Linked DNA regions of Homo sapiens: region 2 is linked to region 1. A link means that fine-mapping ties the variant in region 1 to the expression of a gene that starts in the linked region. Tissue or cell type: prefrontal cortex. Region 1 holds a variant in brackets; the other region holds the start of a gene. All regions are shown on one strand. Distances are between the middles of the regions.

Region 1 (4,224 bases):
CTCCAAAAAGAAAAAAAAAGTCTGAATACATACAGAAGAATCTTTATGATGAGATTTATATCATGCCAATCTCAGCATATTTCAACATAAGAAAAAAATGGAAAATACATTCTTTCAGGATATTGCTAAATGAACAAATTATCACGGCTCTACCATATTCAAGACTACTAAAATGTCAGTCAAACTTACCAACGGGTACGAATGGTGCCTCTTTAGCTTTTCGAATGAGTTTTGATCCCTGATCTTCCTCATATGAAGGAAGGGAAACACCTGTGTCTGTTGACATAGTGATTGCTTGAAGAATCTCCCTGAGAAAGAATTTCTATGAGGTTCTGTAATTAAAAGCATCTGAACATTATTAAATATCTGGATGTATTTAAAATATTCCTAACTTCCATGAGAATCTTAGTATATGTTATCCATAATCCTAAAGTTAAAAAATATTTTTAGAAATTAACTGTATTTTTAATGTACAGTCACTCTCAAGGGAGAGTTGTATACACTTATTCCCCCTATTATTTTGCCGTTTCCCCTGTACAACCCATTCATTTTTAGCACCATGTTAATTAAAAATAGTGAAAAATTTTAAATTGATGTTACTTTTATCAATTAAAATAGTAGCTACTAATTTTCTGGCTATCTTCATCCTTAATCAACTATTTAACTTGACAATTTTAAGTTACTCAAACCAAACTGACAACTCCTATTGAACCTTCAATATCATGTTGGAAATCCTACTTAGCACTTTTCGGTGTAGTTAAATGCAGTCTTTATTGCTTTCAACTGCTGATTTATTTATTCCAATGTGCTTCCTTGCTTCAATTTTCACTTCAGATTAGTTTCCAGTCTATTACAGTAATCTGTTATCCATGGTGGTTGCCTCTGGGGAAAAGATTATTCTGAATAGCCAAAGTTTCTACCTAGCTCATTATTTACTCATTTTAAGAACAAAGCTTTTATTTTAAATATTGGTAGAAATGTCTCCTTCATAGCCTTTTAGATTTTTTTAATGACCTATGATTAGTTTTTTTTCTTTTTTGAGACTGAGTCTTGCTCTGTTGCCCAGGGTGGAGTGCAGTGGCACGATCTCGGCTCACTGCAACCTCCATTTGGCACACACCACCGTGCCTAATTTTTTTGTATTCTTTAGTAGAGACAGGGTTTCACTCCTGACCTCACGTGATCCACCCACCTCAGCCTCCCAAACTGCTGGGATTACAGGTGTGAGCCACTGTGCCAGCTTATGATTAGCTTTTTTTTTTTTTTTTGAGATGGAGTTTCGTTCTTGTTGCCCAGGCTGGAGTGCAATGGCGTAGTCTTGGTTCACTGCAACCTCTGCCTCCCAGGTTCAAGTGATTCTCCTGCCTCAGCCTCCCAAATACCTGGGATTAGAAGTGCCTGCCACCATGCCTGGCTAATTTTTTTTGTATTTTTAGTAGAGATGGGGTTTCACCATCTTGACCAGGCTGGTCTCGAACTCCTGACCTCAGGTGATCCACCTGCCTCCCAGTGTTGGGATTACAGGCATGAGCTACCACACCTGGCCCTATGATTAGCACCTTTTAACATCACTGCAGCACAAAACTGAATTACCCTCAGGGTCTTCTTAATATCTTCTAAGCTTCAGATCTGCCTTCATTTACATACCTTATATCCCCTAGGCTTCCTTTTAAAACTCTACCCTCTTTTTATAATTCCTTTAAATGGTATCCCAAAGGCAAGATCTAGCCTGATAGTGTATGAGTAAGGGGATAGGAAAAAAAAAAAAAGGATTCATTTTCATTATCACAGGGATCAAAGGCTCCTTTCCTCCTTTTCAGTCATCTCCGTGAATAGCCCTTTTATCACAATGAGGCATTAACAAATGCTATTTCATTTTAGCCACAATAACAAAGTATACTTTCTTCACTGAACTATTTTGAATTGCAATAAACTTTACTCACAGATAAAATAAGGGCCTGAAGCATAGTGTAAGCATACAAGTCTCTAATTAGTGTCAATTACAATAAACTTAAAAGTCTATGCCCATCCTAACACCCATATAAAATCTTACTTTCACTTCTGGGTTTTTCATGTGCATTATGCTCCCTTTGATAAAAGTACCTCTCATTCAACACCTTGCTACTCAAGGGGAGTCAGTGGCAGTTAAGGTCCTCAACAAAAATGCAACTCCGGAGGGGGTGGTGTGCTTAGTTTAGAAAGTGAATTCATCCCTATAAGCCTCACCTTCATTGAGAAGACTCAACTGTCATCTGACATAGAAGAAAATCTTAGCTAAATAAAAGAAAATTTAGATTGGACTTAAACCTTCTTTTTGTACTCCATTACTTCTTAACTGAATAAACTCCTAAGTAATGAGCTTTATTATATATAAGGTTCAATAAGCTCAAGGTTCAAGATACTCACTATATATCTGAATAATACAATATAAACACTAAAGTAATTAATCGTTCAAAAATTAGTTGTTGTTTTTTTTTTT[A/T]AAAAAAAAAGAGAAATCATGTAACCGCCAAACAGGTTCACCTTGCCCGCTGGCTAGACAGAGCTGATTTACCAAGACAGGGGAATTGCAATAGAGAAAGAGCAATTCACCCAAAGCCAGCTGTGTGGGAGACCAGGATTTTTATTATTAGTCAAATCAGTCTCTTGGAGCATTCAGGGATCAGTTTTTAAGGATAATTTGGTGGGTGGGGGAAGGCCAGAGAACAGAGTGCTGATTGGTTGGGTTGGAGATGAAATGGGAAGTTGAAGCTGTCCTCTTGTGCTGAGTCAGTTCCTAGGTAGGGGACATAAGATCAGACGAGCCAGTTTATTGATCTGGGTGGTGCCAGTTGGTCTATCAAGTGCAGGGTCTGCAAAATATCTCAAGCACTGATCTTAGGAGCATTTTAGGGAGGGTTAGAATCTTATAACTTCCGTCCCTCTCCCTCTCCCTCTCCCTCTCCGTCTCCCTCTCCGTCTCCCTCTCCCTCTCCCTCCTTCTCCGTCTCCGTCTCCGTCTCCGTCTCCGTCTCCCTCTCCCCACGGTCTCCCTCTCATGCGGAGCCGAAGCTGGACTGTACTGCTGCCATCTCGGCTCACTGCAACCTCCCTGCCTGATTCTCCTGCCTCAGCCTGCCGAGTGCCTGCGATTGCAGGCACGCGCCGCCACGCCTGACTGGTTTTGGTGGAGACGGGGTTTCGCTGTGTTGGCCGGGCCGGTCTCCAGCCCCTAACCGCGAGTGATCCGCCAACCTCGGCCTCCCGAGGTGCCGGGATTGCAGACGGAGTCTCGTTCACTCAGTGCTCAGTGGTGCCCAGGCTGGAGTGCAGTGGCGTGATCTCGGCTCACTACAACCTCCACCTCCCAGCCGCCTGCCTTGGCCTCCCAAAGTGCCGAGATTGCAGCCTCTGCCCGGCCGCCACCCCGTCTGGGAAGTGAGGAGTGTCTCTGCCTGGCCGCCCATCGTCTGGGATGTGAGGAGCCCCTCTGCCCGGCCGCCCAGTCTGGGAAGTGAGGAGCGTCTCCGCCCGGCCGCCATCCCATCTAGGAAGTGAGGAGCGCCTCTTCCCAGCCGCCATCACATCTAGGAAGTGAGGAGCGTCTCTGCCCGGCCGCCCATCGTCTGAGATGTGGGGAGCGCCTCTGCCCCACCGCCCCATCTGGGATGTGAGGAGCGCCTCTGCCCGGCCGAGACCCCGTCTGGGAGGTGAGGAGCGTCTCTGCCCGGCCGCCCCGTCTGAGAAGTGAGGAGACCCTCTGCCTGGCAACCACCCCGTCTGAGAAGTGAGGAGCCCCTCCGCCCGGCAGCTGCCCCGTCTGAGAAGTGAGGAGCCTCTCCGCCCAGCAGCCACCCCATCTGGGAAGTGAGGAGCATCTCCGCCCGGCAGCCACCCCGTCCGGGAGGGAGGTGAGGGGGGGTCAGCCCCCCGCCCGGCCAGCCGCCCCATCCGGGAGGGAGGTGGGGGGTCAGCCCCCCGCCCGGCCAGCCGTGCCATCCGGGAGGGAGGTGGGGGGGTCAGCCCCCCGCCCGGCCAGCCGCCCGGTCCGGGAGGTGAGGGGCGCCTCTGCCCGGCCGCCCCTACTGGGAAGTGAGGAGCCCCTCTGCCCGGCCAGCCGCCCCGTCCGGGAGGGAGGTGGGGGGGTCAGCCCTCCGCCCGGCCAGCCGCCCCGTCTGGGAGGTGAGGGGCGCCTCTGCCCGGCCGCCCCTACTGGGAAGTGAGGAGCCCCTCTGCCCGGCCAGCCGC
Region 2 (4,112 bases), 23 kb before region 1:
GAAGGAAGAAACAAACTCCAGACACGCCACCTTTAAGAACTGTAATAACACTCACCGCGAGGGTCTGCGGCTTTGTTCTTGAAGTCAGTGAGACCAAGAACCCACAATTCTGGACTCAATAACTTTATTCATAATTACCAAAAATGAGAAAAAAACAAGATGTACTTCAATAGGTGAGTAGATAACCTGGTACACTCATACCGGTGAATATTATTCAGTGATGAAAAGAAATGAGCTATCACGCCACGAAAAGACATGAAAGAAACCTAAATGTGTATTGTTAAGTGAAGAAGCCGGTCTGAAAAGGCTACATGCTGTATAATTGCAAACTGTATAATATTCTGAAAAAGGCAAAATTACAGAGAAGTAAAAGATACCAGTGATTGTAAATCCCTTCTAAATGAAAAATATCAGTGGTTTCCAGGGGTTGGTGGGAAGGAACAATGAACAGTAAAGCCTAGGGGGTTTTTGGGGAGGTGAAACTGTTCTGTATACTTTACTGGTGGATACACAGCATTACACATTTAGCAAAACTTGTAGACCTGTGCAACCTTAAGCAATGAACACTGGCCAGGTGTGATGACTCACACCTGTAATCTCAACACTCTACGAAGCCAAGGTGGGAGGACCACTTGAGGCCAGGAGTTTGAGACCAGCTTGGGCAACATAGCAAGACCATAGCTTTACAAAAAATAAAAAAATTAGCTGGGCATGGTGGCATGTGCCTGTGTTCCCAGTTACTCAGGAGGCTGAGGTGGGAGGATTGCTTGAGCCCAGGGGTTGGAGGCTACTGTGAGCCATGATCATGCCACCGCACTCCAGCCTGGGTGACAAAGTGAGACCCTGTCTCAATACAGCAGCAGCAACAACAACAACAGATGAACTCTAATGTAAACTATGGACTTTAGTTAGTAATAACATACCAGTATAGTTGTATCAATGATAACAAATGTACCACACCAATGCAATGTGTAAGATGTTAACAACAGAGGAAATGGGAATACGGAATACATAAAGGAACTGTTTTTTGTTTAATGCTTCTAAAAATCTGCTTTAAGTCTATTTTCTTTTAAAAGTAAAGGCTAAGCCGGGCGTGGTGGCTCATGCGTGTAATCCCAAAACTTTGGGAGGCTGAGGTGGGTGGATCACCTGAGGTCAGGAGTTTGAGACCAGCCTGGCCAACATGGTGAAACCCCATCTCTACTAAAAATACCAAAATTAGCCAGGCATGGTGGCGGGCGCCTGTAATCCCAGCTACTCGAGCCCAAGGCAGGAGAATCGCTTGAACCTGGGAGGCAGAGGTTGCAATGAGCCAAGATCGCGCTACTGCACTCCAGCCTGGGCGATAGAGCGAGACTCCGTCAAAAAAAAAAAAAAAAAAAAAAAGTAATAATAAAAAAAATAAAGTAAAGGCTAGAGCTGCATGGAAAGAACTCTTGGCTCAGGTAGGACTTAGAGCCAGGGAGTAGGAAGAGTGGCATGCACTCTGGAGTCCTATGAGGAAGCAAGATCCCACAGGATATGGGACCATAGGTGACAGGGACCAGTGAGGAAGGATTGAGACCCCTTGCCCCATCGGCCTGCCACTTTTTTCATTGTTTTTCTCTTCCCCTCTCCTTCTCTTTCTTCTTTTCTTTTACTGTGTTCTTTTCGAGTATTCTCAACAACAGTCTAGGGGCCTGGAGGTGTGGGGAGGCCGCCCACGGATGCCTAGTTTGGCGCTCTGTGCACTGCTAGCATCTTCGTAGGGATGGGTTTGGGATGGGAGCGGGGTGATGCTCTGGTTCTCAGGGCTGGACTCCGGGCTTGGAGGGGAACTCCCTCTTGCGAGTCCCCAGTCCTGTGGGGGCTGGGCCTGGAAGGGGAACTGGGAGATGCGGAAGTGCACGCCGTCGGGTCGCATCTTTCAGTGCGGTGCGAGAGGGCCCAGTGGCAGAGGCCCAGCAAACAGCGCTTGTCAGGCGGACCTGAGTTCGAGTTCTGACTGTGCCATCTACGCTATGACTTTGGGGCAGGCGACCCACCCTCTGCGCCTCATTAACCCATGTACTGCATGGAAAATAAGCGTCTGCCTGGGTTAGAAGAGGGCTGTGTGTGAAGATTCAAAGGACGAAGGGGAAGAGTCCTCGCTGGGCGCCCAGCACGCGGTGAGCGCCCGGCCAGTGGCAGCGCGCTCGGGCTGGGGTTGCGCTCGGGCTCGGTTCCGCGCCCCCGGCAGCTGCGGGCTTTCCCAGCTCCGGCCCGGGCCCTTCCGCTCTCCCCGGCACTTACAGCGGTCTCTCTCCACTTCTCCCTTCTAGGACCGCGGCGGCTAGGTCACCTCCTCCGGACGCCGACACGCGCTGCCCTGGCAACCGTCACCAGGGAAACAAGCGACGTCACTTGCGCGTTTTCAACGCTACTCTACGGGGGCCGAGGGGGCGCCAAGAGTTCTGAAAGTGACAGAGGCGCTGATGGCGCGCTGGGCTGGATCCAAGCGAGCACGATCTCGAGTGCGCTGGAGATTTTAAATCTTCTGGAGTATATTTTTAAAAAAGTTTTGTGGACCAAACGTTCTGCACAGAGATGCCCATTCCGCTCTCCTGTTGGGGAGTTAAAAAGCGAACGATCTCACCATGAAATTTAAAGTAGCCATTCAGATATATTTGAAAAATGTAAAACAGTGTGGGGAAAGGCCATGTTATGATGGTGAGTGAAGGAAGCAGGACGCAATATAGCAATGCTAAATAAATAAAGTTGTGTTTATTTCAAACTAGGCACTAAAACAAGACCGAAATAGAAATATTAAAAGTGGTTATATTTGGGTGGTGGAATAGCAGTGCTGTGTTTTTATTTTTACACTTTAGAGAATTTTTAAAATAATGAACATCGTTTATTTTCATAAAGGAAAATACTTGTTTTTTTTTTTTTAAATGGCACCTTCCAATGTAAGACACTACTATATTTCAGGGCAATATGGGGGTGGGAGGCAAATTTCTAGGAAAGATGATTCAAGGGAGATTTCTTTCTATCTATCTATCTATCTAATCTATCTATCTATCTATGATAGAGTCTCGCTGTGTCGCCCAGGCTGGAGTGCAGTGGTGCGATCTCAGCTCATTGCAACCTCCATTTCCCAGGTTCAAGCGATTCTCCTGCCTCAGCCTCCTGAGTAGCTGGGATTACAGGCACCCGCCACCACACCTGGCTAATTTTTTTATTTTTAGTGGAGACGGGGTTTCACCATGTTGACCAGGCTGGTCTTGAACTCCTGACCTCAGGTGATCCGCCCACCTTGGCCTCCTAAAGTGCCGGGATTACAGGCGTGAGCCACAGCTCCTGCCCAAATATTTATCCAGGACTTCATAATTTGAAAACCTTGGCAGTTGTTTTTCTATTTTTTTTCCTCATAAGGTGAATGAATACCCATCCCATAGACATGCATACATAAGATACGGCACTAGACTGCCATCAGCACTGCAGGTATAAACCCGAAGTTTCCTGATAAAGGAAAAATGGATCTTTCCCGTTGGTCTCCAATTGCTGCCTGGTGAGCTGAGGGTGGGAGACGTATAATATACAGGTGGCAGCAAAGAGAGACAGGATAAAGAGTAGGATTCAGGTAGATGTGAGCCTCAAAGGATTAGGGTTTTTTTTAAATGGTGTGTGTAGTGGGGAGTATCATTCGTTTGCCTCATGACCACGATGGGACTATGTGGCATAGGAAAAGGAATAGCCAGGTCTACTTAGAGGGCTTCTGGAAAGCATGGATCCTAGCAGAAAGCCAGGTTTTCATTAAAATAAGAACATGCTGTGAGAAAATTAAGGATGCAAGAGAATTTCAGAACCGACATTCTAGAATGTATGTATTAGAAAGTTTGGGAAAGGGGTAACATTTGCTCCAGCAATCCAAGGATTATTTTTGACGAGGATATCATTTTTGCAGTAACCCATTTTTTAAAAAGCAGGGATGATTTTCCTCTAGGTTTGTTACTTTTCCACGGTCACCACTAAGGCTCTCATGCCATTTTTTTTTTCTGCCCAAAATTCTTTTGAGAATTTTCTTTAGTTTATAAGCTTGACATTTTATCATCCAAGAAGCTGGCGAATCCAATCTGGGTCACCAGTATTTC

The links. PIP is the estimated chance that this variant, and not a neighbour inherited with it, causes the effect.
Region 2: CCDC13 starts here. The variant in region 1 is the best candidate, but not a certain one, in a credible set for the expression of CCDC13 in prefrontal cortex (ROSMAP, PIP 0.51).

What each region holds. Positions count from the first base shown.
Region 1 is chr3:42,793,968-42,798,191 of GRCh38, forward strand. HIGD1A (HIG1 hypoxia inducible domain family member 1A) reads right to left here. Exons shown (of 4, transcript NM_014056.4): 2 at 190-308. The coding sequence starts at 286. Among named protein-coding and RNA genes, the nearest start is that of HIGD1A, 8.4 kb to the right of the region's middle. The variant A/T (reference allele first, on the strand shown) is at 2,480.
Region 2 is chr3:42,770,905-42,775,016 of GRCh38, forward strand. CCDC13 (coiled-coil domain containing 13) reads right to left here and starts at 2,349. Exons shown (of 16, transcript NM_144719.4): 1 at 2,272-2,349. CCDC13-AS2 (CCDC13 antisense RNA 2) reads left to right here. Exons shown (of 2, transcript NR_122070.1): 1 at 1-173; 2 at 2,301-2,731. RefSeq lists a silencer at 2,070-2,229 and an enhancer at 2,360-2,529.